Homo sapiens: one gene and its partners. The protein of the gene in region 3 purifies or fractionates together with the protein of the main gene of each other region. This does not show direct contact. Each region holds a gene or a part of one and is shown on either strand. Other genes may lie near its edges.

Evidence for each region. Proteins that work in one complex are often made in the same cells at the same time.
Region 1: the proteins of ZNF213 (region 3) and GNE purify together in Homo sapiens (affinity purification with mass spectrometry; one large-scale study listed by BioGRID and IntAct). This does not show direct contact.
Region 2: the proteins of ZNF213 (region 3) and BMP1 purify together in Homo sapiens (affinity purification with mass spectrometry; one large-scale study listed by BioGRID and IntAct). This does not show direct contact.

The regions. Positions count from the first base shown.
Region 1 is NC_000009.12:36,212,977-36,217,589, forward strand, and holds the end of GNE (bifunctional UDP-N-acetylglucosamine 2-epimerase/N-acetylmannosamine kinase), read right to left. Parts: coding exon 4,389-4,613; 3' UTR 1,465-4,388; downstream 1-1,464. UniProt on the Homo sapiens protein: Bifunctional enzyme that possesses both UDP-N-acetylglucosamine 2-epimerase and N-acetylmannosamine kinase activities, and serves as the initiator of the biosynthetic pathway leading to the production of N-acetylneuraminic acid (NeuAc), a critical precursor in the synthesis of sialic acids.
Region 2 is NC_000008.11:22,206,477-22,211,335, reverse strand, and holds part of BMP1 (bone morphogenetic protein 1 isoform 3 precursor), read right to left. Parts: intron 4,483-4,859; coding exon 4,355-4,482; intron 4,034-4,354; coding exon 3,820-4,033; intron 1,892-3,819; coding exon 1,641-1,891; intron 1-1,640. UniProt on the Homo sapiens protein: Metalloprotease that plays key roles in regulating the formation of the extracellular matrix (ECM) via processing of various precursor proteins into mature functional enzymes or structural proteins.
Region 3 is NC_000016.10:3,137,533-3,141,529, reverse strand, and holds part of ZNF213 (zinc finger protein 213), read right to left. Parts: coding exon 3,851-3,997; intron 3,177-3,850; exon of another isoform or gene 3,113-3,176; coding exon 2,989-3,112; intron 2,786-2,988; coding exon 2,712-2,785; intron 2,556-2,711; coding exon 2,432-2,555; intron 895-2,431; coding exon of another isoform or gene 842-894; coding exon 183-841; 3' UTR 1-182. UniProt on the Homo sapiens protein: May be involved in transcriptional regulation.

The DNA of each region.
Region 1 (4,613 bases), on a different chromosome or scaffold from region 3:
GTTGCCATTGCCAAGAAGGAAAGGCCACTATCTCTTCAATGTTAATTATTTTTGGCTGGAAGGAGCTTTCATTACTTTTCCTGCTACCTCCCCGTTTCCAAGCTTAGTTGGGCTTTCCTTGACCTGGCCCACATTTCTGGCCTCTGCTTATTCCTCCCCCTTTAGTCAAATCTTATTACAATCAAGCAATCATTGTTCCCAGACTTTTGTTCCTACGGGACCTGCTAATCCCATTCCAAATGTCAAAATCCAATTTAAGAACTAGTTCAAAGGCCACCCCCCTTCCCCTGAACTCCCATGGCCATCTACCTGGGGCAGCTTATTTTTGGTAGTCTTGGTGCCATCGTCTGGACCAGTCTTGCCTCCCACACCAGCTGGGCTTCTTGAGGTGGGAGGTGGCAATTTTAAATGTCAACAAAATCTGTGACATTCTCTAGATGGAGAGGTGACTGAATAATGTGACAAAAGTGATGCTGGGATGACTTCCAAGGCTAGGTCATAAAAGGCAGTGCTGCTGATGGTTGATTTGTTGGAGCAACTAGCTGGTGGCCCTGAGCCGCCTCATAAAAAATTCTACCTTTGAAGCTACCCATGTGGTGAGGAAGCCCAAACTAGCCCACAGAGAGGCCACCTGAGAGACCCTGTAACCACACACATTGGGAGATGCCTGGCCAGCCAGCCTCGTGCTATTCCAGCTGACAACTACAAGTGCAGGATACTCTTGAGCTACAACTGTCAAGTTTGAGCCTTTCCCAAATCCTGACCCACAGAAACCACGACGTGAAACAATTACTGTTGTTTTAAGCTCTTCAGTTTTGAGGTTACACAGCAATAGTAATTTGGGATTGTTTCTAATGCCTGTATGAGACCCACATAGGGCCTCATAAAAAGAGGGAGTGGGTCTAGGGACTCAGTAAATGCTTAACACTTAGTTTCAAACCTCTTTCTTGGGGGCTACTTTGCTTTTTTATGCCAAATTTTCAATGTTATATATAGCAATGTTTTGTTTTTGTTGTTTTTGAGACAGGGTCTCACTGTGTCGCCCAGGCTAGAGTGCAATGGCATGATCATAACTAACTTACTGCAGCCTCCACTTCCCGGGCTCAGGTGATCCTCCCACCTCAGCCTCCTGAGTAGCTGAGACTGCACCATGCCTGGCTAATTTTTTTTGTATTGTTTTGTAGAGATGGGGTTTTGGCATGTTGCCCAGGCTGGTCTCGAACTCTAGGGTTCAAGCAATCTTTCTGCCTCAGCCTCCCAAAGTGCTGGGATTACAGGCATGAGGCACCATGCCCAGCCATGCTTTCTATTAATAGACTTTTTTTGGTTAAGAAAGCAATGATATTAGAGGCCTTAAGGAAGTTATATAACCTTCAAAACGTAAGCAGTGCAACAATTAAATCTCTTCTGGGAAGGAAAATGCTTTTGGCTAATGAGTTACGAACAAAACAAAATACAACAGGATTTCAACAAGGAAATGTATTTATTTTTTCTTTAGAATTTGGCTCAGAACAGTAACAAAAATATTTACATTAAAATAAATTAACATGCAATTACTTAACCATATGTAATAATTTACGTTGGAATATATTAGCCTTCCCATGAGTTTAATAAAAACTAATATTTGGTTTTAGATTCAATACCATCCTTTCAAATATTTGGTATGAAACTTGGTAGCAATGCAATTGTCTGATGTACAGAGCAGATTTCACCATGAGAGATTACACCAAAGAACAGATGTCCCTTCCCAGAACATTATCTCACCCCAGACTCAGAAACTGAGCAGCCAAGCTTCCTTCCCAGGAATCACCATGGAATGTCTGAACAATAACCAGGCCCTGGAGATTACTGCAGGGCTGGCAGAGTTTTAGGAATCAGCCAAACTCTTTTTCACACTAACCCACTAGGAAGGATATAGTTCAAATGTAATGTTGAGTCCTTCAGTTTATTTGAACACTGAAACAATATGTTGTAGAAACCTTCATTTTCCCAAAATAGAAATCTGAAAGATATATGCACATGATTTCTTAGATCATCTAAAAGTACCCATAAAAACCTGTCACTAGGGCCAGGTGTGATGGCTTACACCTGTAATCCCAGCACTTTGGGAGGCAGAGGCGGGCGGATCACCTGAGGTCAGGAGTTCAAGACCAGCCTGGCCAACATGGTGAAACCCTGTCTACTAAAAATACAAAAAAAAATCAGCCGGGCGTGGTGCATGTGCCTGTAATCCCAGCTACTCAAGAGGCTGAGGCAGGAGAATCACTTGAACTTGGGGGGCAGAGGTTGCATTGAGCCACTGCACTCCAGCCTGGGTGACAGAGTGAGACCCGTCTCAAAAAAATAGAACACCTGTCACTAGACCAAATACTATACTGGTAAAATTTCACAGCAGAGAGGAATATTTCATTAAATTCAGCTGATAGGGTCAAGGATACATTAAGTCATTTACAAATCAGATATTAGTATTAAAGTTTTTGGTGGCCTAGAGTGAATTAGAATATGTTAGCATTTTGAAAGTGTTTTTGAAATGAGAGGTTGTGTGGCTCAGCAGCAAAAGCACAGAGGGACCTGGGATCAAACCCTCTCTCTAGCCCCATAGCTTAACAGTCAAACACACCAAGTTCTATAAAATAAAAATTAAAACACCTACCTCATATGTTGAGATAATTTAGGATAATGTATATGAAGCACCTAGTTCAGAGCCTGGCACACAGTAGGCACTTAATAAGTGGTGGCAGTTAGTATTTCTTCCAAGTTAACAATTCATAGCCAGAACTTTGGCTTTTGTATTTTGACACCAATGAAAACACGAATCATGTAGACAGAATCCTGATTCATGGCTCTGGGCTCTAGGTAAAACTCAAAACTTTAATGGACACCCTAGGGTGTTACTCAACACAGTATGAAAGGCTACTGAAGGAAGAAGTGTCTGCTGGTCAGTAGCAAAGATCCTTTTGGGACAGTTAATCTCCTTTTAAAGGCTCTAAGTCCCAGTGGCTTCTCAGCTGTCCTAAGAAGATAAGGACAAGGTCACTAAGGCCACTGTAATTTAGATCCCTGGTCTAAAGTCTCTTGTAAGTTCAGCTAGAGTAATAACATCTTTCAACAAATGGTATCCAGGATTAGGGGGGATATCTGAGATGGGGGAGTGATAGATATGTCCAGTGTCTTGATTGTGGTGATGCTTTCACAGGTATACATATGTCAAGGCTTATCAAATTGTAGGCTTTAAAAACAATAAAGCTGTTTTAAAAAAAAGTGTACTTAAGCCCTTCCTGGTAAGATTTCCCTCTGTTCTCTGACTGGATCACCTTCTGTGATCTTAGTTTGGGGTTAGAGGAGGAAGGATGTGTGTGTGTGTGTGTGTGTGTGTGTAGACGGAGTCTCGCTCTGTCACCCAGGGTGGAGTGCAGTGGCATGATCTCGGCTCACTGCAACCTCCGCCTCCCGGGTTCAAGCAATTCTCCTGCCTCAGCCTCCCGAGTAGCTGGGACTACAGGCACATGCCACCACGCCCGGCTAATTTTTGTATTTTAGTAGAGATGGGGTTTCACCATGTTGGCCAGGCTGGTCTTGAACTCCTGACCTCAGGTGATCCGCCCATCTCGGCCTCCCAAAATGTTGGGATTACAGGCGTGAGCCACTGCGCCCAGCTGGAAGGATTATTATTATTATTATTATTATTATTATTATTTATTATTATTATTTTTGAGATGGAGTCTTGCTCTGTCACCCAGGCTGGAGTGCAGTGGTGCGGTCTCAGTTCACTGCCAGCTCCGCCTCCCTGGTTCATGCCATTCTCCTGCCTCAGCCTCCCGAGTAGCTGGGACCCGCCACCACACCCAGCTAATTTTTTGTATTTTTAGTAGAGACGGGGTTTCACCATGTTTCACCATGTTAGCCAGGGCGGTCTCGATCTCCTGACCTCGTGATCCGCCCGCCTCGGCCTCCCAAAGTGCTGGGATTACAGGCGTGAGCCACTGTGCCCGGCCTGGAAGGATTATTAATGCAAACTTCAGGATGAAGTGATATCCCAGGCAAGGCCTGAAGGTCTCAGTGGTATTAATACATTAGTAAGCAGAGTTCTAAGAAGGCTTCCTCTCTATTATTGTAGCTGCTTTGGCACAGAAAATTGTGACTGTAACTTACAGGGTTTGAGCTAAAATGACCCCTAGTAAGAAGACATCAGAAAGAATAGCATCTACAAAAATAGGAGTGGGGAAAGGTGACTCTGGAAGAGGAGACCAAAAGTGAAAACATTTCTCTGCCAAAGTCACCTGCAGTTCAATACCAGATTTGATTGTTAAGAAACGGTCATCCTAAAGACAAGAACTTGATTCCACTCAGGAGCTCTGGAGAGAAGGTCCATGTCTGTTCCTGGAGGTCTAGTAGATCCTGCGTGTTGTGTAGTCCAGAACCATGCTGGCAGCACCCAGCAGGGCGGGGTCAACCAAATCCGAAACCACCACATCCACGTCCTGCACGGAGGACAAGGCCTGCTGGCGAATGACGTCTTTGACAATGTGGATATAGTGACTGGCCAGGACTCCGGAGAGGATCACAAGGGAGGGATTCATGGTATGGAGGATGTTCACAACCCCAAGACCCAA
Region 2 (4,859 bases), on a different chromosome or scaffold from region 3:
CACCTCCCATCTCTGGGCCTCACTTCCCTCAGCCACAAACAGGAGCAAAAGGTCTCTGCTCTCCATGCCTAGGAGGGGTGCTGGGGAAAAACAAAGGACTGCACCGATGTCAAAGTATTTTGCAAAGGGAGGGAGTTCTTTGAATGGCATCACTTCCTGCTGTCCCAGTGGACTCTTAGGGAAGACGGCACAGCCACTTCTCTGCTGGAGTGTGGAGGAAGTTTTGGAGAGAAGCACAGTGCCCCCCAGGCCTGGACTCTGCCATCCCTACCCCTTGCCCCGCCTCTCCTCTGGCACCTGGCCAAGGTCTGCTCCCGAGCCCTTCTTAGGTGCCTCCTGCAAGCCTACTGAGTGAGGTCAGCCCTCAGAGCATCGGACGTCAACGCCCTGGCCTTCCAGGCACAGAAGAAATCATTTCTGAGAACCTTGAGGACATTCCGAGTAGTTGTGCCAGGAGGCCCTGATCCTTCCCCAAGTTCCTTCCGGTCAACTCAGCCTGGGGGAGGTCTCTGGAAGAAGACACCTGGGGACATCCGATTTGGTGTGTGATTCAGAAGAAAGAGCAAAGAGGGGAGGGGACACTAGCCTGGCAGCCAGGGGACACCAGGGCAGCCAAGCTGCTTCAGGCTCCACCTTGTCCCAGCCCCTGCCAGCCACACGAGGGCTGAAGCTCTGCTCCTGGGGGAGGTTCAGCCAATGCTGGGTCCAGCAGCTGCTGCAGCTTCCAGGAGCTTTAACCCTTCCTGGGGCACCCAGGCTGCCTGGGATACAGCCATGAGATAGGCAAGGGGACAGGGAGGTGACAGGAGGGCCAGTGTATTTGAAAGTGCATGCAAGTGGGTGTGCCAGTGTGTGTGTATGTGTGTGAGAGAGAGAGAGAGAGAGAGAGGGAAAGAGAGAGAGATGGGTAGGAAGACAGTCTGTCTCTTTGAAGCCCTCAGGAAAGGACAAAAAAAAAAAAAAAAAAAGAAGAAGAGGCAGCTGCAAGCTCTTACAGGGAGGAAAATAAATCCTCCCCACGAGGCTAGCCCATGTCCTTAGGGAAAAGCCCATCAAGCCTACTTTTGCTCATTGACTCTTAACGTGCCATTTTATGGACCAAGAAGCAGTGCCCAGGGGCCACTGGGACAGCAGCAGCAAGAGCTTTGGGACAAGCTGGCCTTTCATCAGGAGGAGAAACTGGTAGAGGAAATGACAAGAGTGTTTATGCCTCCGGCAAAAGGACTGGTGAGGGCCACTCCGCTCAGGCGCCCTGTCCCCGGCTCTGGTGCCAACCTCTGCCCCCCATTCCAGGCCCTGGTGGGCTGCCTTGGGGGAGGGGTAAGGAAAGGAGGGACAGAGGAAGCTCCATCCGCTCCAGGCCGTGGCCAACTGGTTCTGAGGCAGGCCTGGGTCAGAGGCCGCAGGAACTTCTAGGTTGCCCAGAAAGGACTTGGTTTCCTACGTCGGGGATGGGGCAGTGTCTCTGAGTAGCCCCAACAAGGCTGGGCTTCTGGGCTCCCACACAGGGCCACACGCGTGCTGCACTCAACTTCCGGGGCCTGTGTGGGCGCTAGGTCTTGGAGACTGGGCTGAGAAGGGTGGAGGACAGTGTGGGGCGTGGGGCATGGGGCCAGGAGGGCGAGGGGTGGGGGCCTCACCCCTGAGCCACAGTAGCGCCCCAGCCTGGGGGCTGTGCTGTCGTAGCCGTCGAAGAGCTCCATGTAGTCATAGCCGCAGTCGGTCTCCTCCTCCACCTCAAAGGTCTGGAACACGAGCTCCACGCCGTAGCCTTCCTCGGCCACAATGACCCACTCACAGTCCACACCCCCAGGGTAGTTGTTGTCGCCAAACTGGGCGTGGGAGTAAAGGTCCTTGGTCTTCACGTCTGCCCGTACCTGGCCCCCGCACTCTGTAGGGGACAAGAGGGGCCAACCAGCCCTGAGCACCGCAGGTGCCAGGCCCCATGGCACACTATGCCATGGCGTGCCCTCACGGCAGGATGGAGGCCTGGGTGAAGGCCACGAGGCCAGTGATGGGTGGGTGGGGGCCTGGCCCAGAACATTGCTGTGCTGCCCCATCTCTAAATAGAGGGACCTTGGCCCTAGGCTGAGGGGAACAGGCAGTGAGGCTCACCGAGAGGAAGACAGCATGGAGCGGTGGCACGAGGCACCACACACTTTGTCTAAAGAGGGCATTGCTCATTTTCTCCAGCTGATGGCTGTCATGGAAGAATGTGGGCCCAGTGTCGCCACAGCTTCCATTTTCAAGAGAGAAGCCGTACATCTGGGTTTTATGTGAAAACTCCTAACTTTTAAGTGTTGGCTCACATTTTTAAAAAAAACACAGTGTGGGCCAAACATAGCAGGTCTGAGGGCCAGATGGAGTTCCGGGCCTCCGGTTTGTGACCCTGTGCTGGGAAGGGCAGAGGACAGTGCATGGGGCCACCCTCCTCCCCAGGCCCTCTGGCTTTTGTGCACCTGGCACTCAGGTCTCGCTAGAGGAGGTGGGGAGAGGGAAGGACGGGGCTGGGTCAGGGACTGAGTTGAAGGGGAAGAGGGGAGGCTGTGGACCATCAGCTCTGGGGATGCCCTGACAGGTGGCTTAGGACCCAGGAGGAGACTGCAAAGCTCCCTCGTGGCATCCTTGGTCTGGCACTCAAGGCATCCCCCTGGACTCCAGCCTTTCTCTGCAGCCACATCATTCCCACAACCTGCTGTCCTCACACACCCATTGCTTCGGCCAAAGTAAATGACCTGCTGTCACCTGGGCACACTCTGGGCTGGGCTGGGGTTGTGTCTCTGCCTGGGCACCTCCCCCTGCCTCGAATGCCTCTACCAACACATGCCCAGTTAGGCCGGGGTGCCTTTCTTCCTGCCTGGCTCCCGCTTGGGCTCATGCTGTCACGGGCGGTGCCTGCCTTGTCTCTCTCCTGGACTGCGAGTTCCTAGTATGGGGTGGGGGGCAGGAGTGAAGGGCTCATGCCTGATTCAGGCCACGTGCCCCTTAGTCCTCTCGCAGAGCGGAGCTCAGTTCATGGCTGCTAAATAAACAAGCAAGTGAAAGCCGAGCAAGCCCCTCAAGGGCTGGGATCTTTGCTTGGTCTGTTTCTGGGACCTGCATTTAGGATGCCGCCTCATCCATGTTACATGTCAATAAGTATCAGGAGAATGGGCTGGGCACGGTGGCTCACGCCTGTAATCTCAGCACTTTGGGAGGCCAAGGCGGGCGGATCACCTGAGGTCAGGAGTTTGAGACTGGCCTGGCCAACATGGCGAAACCCTGTCTCTACTAAAAATACAAAAATTAGCTGGGCATGGTGGCAGGCTCCTGTAATCCCAGCTACACGGGAGGCTGAGGCAGGGGAATCGCTTGAACCCAGGAAGTGGAGGTTGCAGTGAACCAAGATCGAACCACTGCACTCCAGCCTGGGCGACAGAGCAAGACTCCATCTCAAAAAATAAAAAATAAATAAAAATAAAAATAAAAAAATAAATATCAGAGAATGAATAGAGTATATTTCAGGGTTGGTGTGTGGCTGGGCTGCTGCGGTGGCCCGCGTACGCTCAGGGGGACCTCTGGGGGCTTTCCTCTCTGTCCCTGAGTTCCCTCACCTCTCCTGTCCATCGTCATCACTGCCATCCTAACCCCTAACCACACCCTCCTATCCCTGCCCCCCAGGCCTGGTTCTCAGGACACAATGTTTGCATCACCCACAACCCTGGCCCTGGGTCGCAGGGCTCAGTCCCTCTGTACCTTCATACCCGCATTGAAACCCCCGACTCTACCCCAGTCTTGGAGACCAGGCTCAGTGAACACTCCCACAACCGGGGACAGTACCTGTGGCGTGGGAGGCCTGGAAGCCCTTTCGCTGGACCGAGTTATCTGAGTAGAAGCGCAGGAACATGCGGCTGCCTGTGGCCAGGACGGGCTCGGGCTTCTTGCTCCCACAGAAGCGGCCGAGGACGGGGGCCTTGGCGTCTCGCCCGTCGAACACCTCTAGGTGGTCGTAGGCACACTCAGGCTGGGACTCGATGTCCATCTCCATGAAGGTCTAGGGGGATGAGGAAGGAGCACAGATTAAAAATTTGGCTGGAAGGCAGGTGGGGCAAGGATGAGGGCCCCAAACCTAGGCCTCACAGATACCCATGGGAGCAGCCACAGCTGGGGATGACAGTGAAGGAGGGCCCAGGAATAGGGCGAAGGCAGGGACGCCCCTAATTTATACTGGGAAAGGGGCCTCTGTCCAGGCCAGACTTGGGGTCTCCTGGGGATGGCAGACCTCTGGGCTCAGCCTGCAGCCTGTGTGGCTCTGGGCAGTGCCTCTGACCGGGGGCAGCCACACCGCATAAGGAGTGGGGAGGGGACCCCTTACCAGCTTGACCCGGTGCCCGGGGGTGCTGGAGATGGCCCACGTGCACTCCTTCTTGCTGGGATACTTGTCAGGCCAGTTGGGGCTGGTGATGGTACCACTGGTGGATGTCACCTTGTGGTCACAGCCGGCTGCAGGGAAGCGAGTGACGGAAGGGGATAGAGAGGGACCCCAAGCTCCGATGCCTCCTGTGGGGAAGGCCCTTCCCTCCTGCCCCCCCTCCTTTCTTCCATCTCTTGTCCCACTTATGAACTGGATGGCAGGCAGGCATCGTTTCTTTTTCATGAGGTTACTGCGTCTGGGGAAAATCTAGCTGCCCGATTCCTACAAAAGCCTTGAGTGAGGCCTCACATGGCAGCACTCATGAAGCAGCCATCGCAGGCTCCCTGGACAACCCCCAGACCTTTGTAGGTGTTGGGCCACAGGGGTCATATCACCTGTGCCTCTCCATTTTTCTTTTCTTTCTTTCTTTTTTTTTTTTTTGAGATGGAGTCTCGCTCTGTTGCCC
Region 3 (3,997 bases):
CCCTTTGAGCGCTGGGCAGGTCCTCAGAGCCAAGCAGGGCAGGCGAGCTCCGAGTGTGAGGTACCCTGGGGTCCCTCGGACAGCCCGGGAGGTGGCCACAGATGGAAGGAGAGTCCCAGTGGTGAACAAAGCAGGATGTGCCGTGGCTGGGCCTCCCCCGGGTTTCCGGCCAAGCCAGCTGCTCACCCCACGGGCTGGGCCATCTTGGCGTGCAGGCTCTGATGCGCGATGAGGTGCGCGCGCTGCTTGAAGCTCTTGTCGCACTCTCCGCAGCCGAAGGGCCGCTCACCGGTGTGCACACGCCGATGGTCCAGCAGGTAGGAGCGCAGCGAGAAGCTCTTGCCGCAGTCGCTGCAGCCGAAAGGCTTCTCGCCCGTGTGTATGCGCTGGTGGTCGGCCAGGTAGGCGCTGCGGCTGAAGCTCTTGCCGCACTCGGAACAGGAGAAGGGCTTCTCGCCCGTGTGCACGCCTTGGTGGCGCACCAGGTCCGAGGAGCTGCGGAAGCTCTTGTCGCACTCAGGGCACTTGTGTGGCTTCTCGCCCGTGTGCGTGCGCTGGTGCCGCGCCAGGTCCGAGCCCCAGCGGAAGCGCTTTCCACACTGCCCGCAGCTGTGCGGCTTCTCGGCTGCCAGGTCCCGGAACTGGCGCCGGCGAGTGGGTGGCCGCCCCCGTCGCGCGCCCACCACTGGGCCCAGGGCCGCCCTCGGCCGGTTCTCGCTCTCCCAGGCCTCAGCCTCCTCGGGGCTCCAGGACACAGTCACGTCGCTGCCTGTCTGGCCTGGCACCACCGGCACCATCTCCTGCAGCAGGGACTTCTCACTTTGGCCTTTGAGCCCAAAACCTGCAAGGGGAAGGAGGCGACCTCTTCAGTCCCACGCGGTTCTGGGGCCAGAGCTGAGGTGAGGAAGAAACAAGGCTGGGGAAAGCTCCCTGGCCTCCAGGTTCAGAAAGCCCTGGGTTCACACAGCTGAATTCTCAGGTTCCTCATCTATAAAACAGGGATGATTGGCCAGGCGCAGTGACTCAAGCCTGTAATCCCAACATTTTGGGAGGCTGAGGCGAGCTGATCACCTGAGGTTAGGAGTTCGAGACCAGCCTGGCCAACATGGTGAAACCCCGTCTCTATTAAAAAATGCAAAAATCAGCAGGGCATGGTGGCGCACATCTGTAATCCCAGCTACTCAGGAGGCTGAGGTAGAAGAATCACTTGAACCCATGAAGCGGAGGTTGCAGTAAGCCGGGATCATGCCATTGCACTCCAAGAGCGAGACTTTGTCTCAAAAACAAACAAAAACCCAAATAAATCAGGGATGATGAAAAAATTCGGCAGAGCAGCAGTCTGAATAAGCCTCTGATCCCGCCTGCATGGGCCAGCCCCCTAAGCCATCTGTGCCCTGCAGGCCACACTGGGATCCAATGTCCCACTCTGAACCCCAGATATCAAGCTCCACAGCAGAACAGATTTATAGTAATTCTGAAACTTTTCAAGGGCCGGGCGCGGTGGCTCACGCCTGTAATCCCAGCACTTTGGGAGGCTGAGGCAGGCGGATCATGAAGTCAGGAGTTCGAGACCAGCCTGACCAACATGGTGAAAACTCGTCTCTATTAAAAATACAAAAAAATTAGCCGGGCATGGTGGCTCATGCCTGTAATCCCAGCTACTCAGGCTGAGGCAGGAGAATTGCTTGAACCCGGGAGGTGGAAGTTTCAGTGAGCTGAGATCACACCACTGCATTCCGGCCTGGCGACAGAGCAAGACTCCATCTCAAAAAAAAAAAAAAGAAAGAAAATTTTTCCCAACCGTCACAGTCGGAAACTGAGGAGCCAAACTGGTCTAGCTAGTGTGGCTCCCTTCACCACGCAGGCTCTAGTTCTCCAAACTCAACACAGATCTGGACAGAGGTCGCAGCCCATCCTCCTGGGAGTGTGACTGAACAAGATGATCCCTGATGGTGCTGAGAAGGGGCCTGGCATGGAGAGGAACCTGGTAAGTGCAGTTCTGACGAGCAGGGGCCCAGGCTGGTGAGCAGCTGGGGTTCCCCGTCAGCACCCCTGCTCCTAGCAGCCCAAGGTGGCCTCACAACTGTGCCTGATCCAAGTCCCAGCTGTGTCCCTTCAGCATCCACTGACCTGAGTCTCAGGTCCCTTATGCGTAAAATGGGGACAATACTTCCATGCACTAGGTTGTGAGACTCAAAGGAGAAGTTGCCCTTAGAGCAACTGCAGGGCTGGGCAGCGCCGGCGCCGTCCCATGCTGCATGTGGAAACGCACAAAAACTGATCATCAGCCAAGAAAGGAGTTACTCAGGCTCCTGGCAAGACCTAGGGAGAGCCTGCTTTGGAACCAGCTAAGGATGGGGTGGGAAACAAGACTGAAGTTCCAGCAGAATCGGGGGCGGCCAGCCTGGACCCAAAGGCCCTGGGTGCTTACCCAGGGTGGTGTTCCGGGAGTTCTCCCGCTTTATGTCCCAGAAGAGATCCCGCTGAGCAGGGTCCAGGGTGCCCCATTCTTCCCGGGAGAAATAGAATGGGATGTCTCCCAATGCCACAGGTCCCTGGAATGGGGTGAGAAGACCCGGCTCAGGCCTCCCAGCAGCACTGGCGGGGACAGGATGGGTCAGATGAAAGAGGCCTGATGGGACAGCAAGTCCCATTTTACAAACTCAACAGGGCCAAGTGCCTTAAAGAAGACAAAGGGACTGGTGACTCACATGGACCCCAGAGACAAAGCAGGTGTCCGTCGTCTCTCCGGGACGACCCTCTTTAAGAAGAGCAGGAGGCTGGGCTGAAGGAGAAGAATGGAGCCTTAGAAAGGCCAGCCCAGGCTTGACACCGACGCCTATGGCCTCCCCAGCCTGTGCGCATGCACACACGCCCTGGACTTCACAGAGGGAGCTGTCCTGCCTGTGACCCTTAGGGCAACGCCGGTGACAAAGCTAGGTCCCTGCCCAGCCACTCGACTGTCCACAAGAACGGAGGCTTACTCACCGCTATGGCTGTGCTGCTCCTGGGGAACAGACGGCCGCCTCCGTGCCCCCACCGTCGGGGGAGGCCCCGTGGCCTGGGATCCCCGGCCTGCAGCCTCGGGTTCCGCCTCCTCCGAGGGCACATCCTGTGCAGGAACCACAACATGCTCATCAGCCCGAGACCAGACCGGGGGAGACAGAGTTTACTCCCTGGGAAGGAGACACAGGACATGACCCTCAGGATGCTGGGGTGTGGGAAGGAGACCAATATGGTGCCCCAGGAAAAGTCCGGAGGAGAATGTGATACCAGGTAATGCTGTGTGCCCAAGGATGCTCCCCGATCATTCACGAGGCAAGAACCAGCCCTGAAAGGCCAGAATCACAGCCACTTAGCAAGGGGGTAGCTGGGGACCCTCCTGCCAAAGGCAGAACCCCATCCCCCAGCCACTCATTAGAACCTCCCCAGATGCATCCAATGTGAAGGACCCAACATCCCACAAGGTAGCAGAGGCCCCGGACAGCTCCACCTTCTCGCCCCACTCTGGAGCTGGCTCTATGCACACCCTTGTGTCCCCAGAGCCAGGCCTAGAGCAAAATGCAAATAAACATCAGCAGACCCTGCATGGAGCTAAAACCTCCTGTCTGGAACATTCGCACTTCAGCCCTATTGCTGCCTTCCAAAGCCACAAAAAATAAATCACATTTACTTTGGATCGCATCTTTCAGAAAGGCACCCATGGCACACTGTGCTTGTGTGCCTGCTCCTGGGGGCTCTGTGTCTCCCCTACCCTGTGAGCCTCTGGGAGACTTATCTCTGCAGGTTACCCACTTCTCTCGAGCTCAGATACCATCCAGGTGCCCCTGGATGTGGAAGGGCCCCTCACCTGTCGCCAGGCTTTCACTGGCTGCTTCTGTAGGTCCTCCACCAAGGCGACAGCCTCCTCACCGCTTCCCGGGTGCTGCTCACGCACCCAGCCCTGGATCTCCCCTGGCAGCACTGTCAGGAACTGCTCCAGCACCAGCAGCTCCAG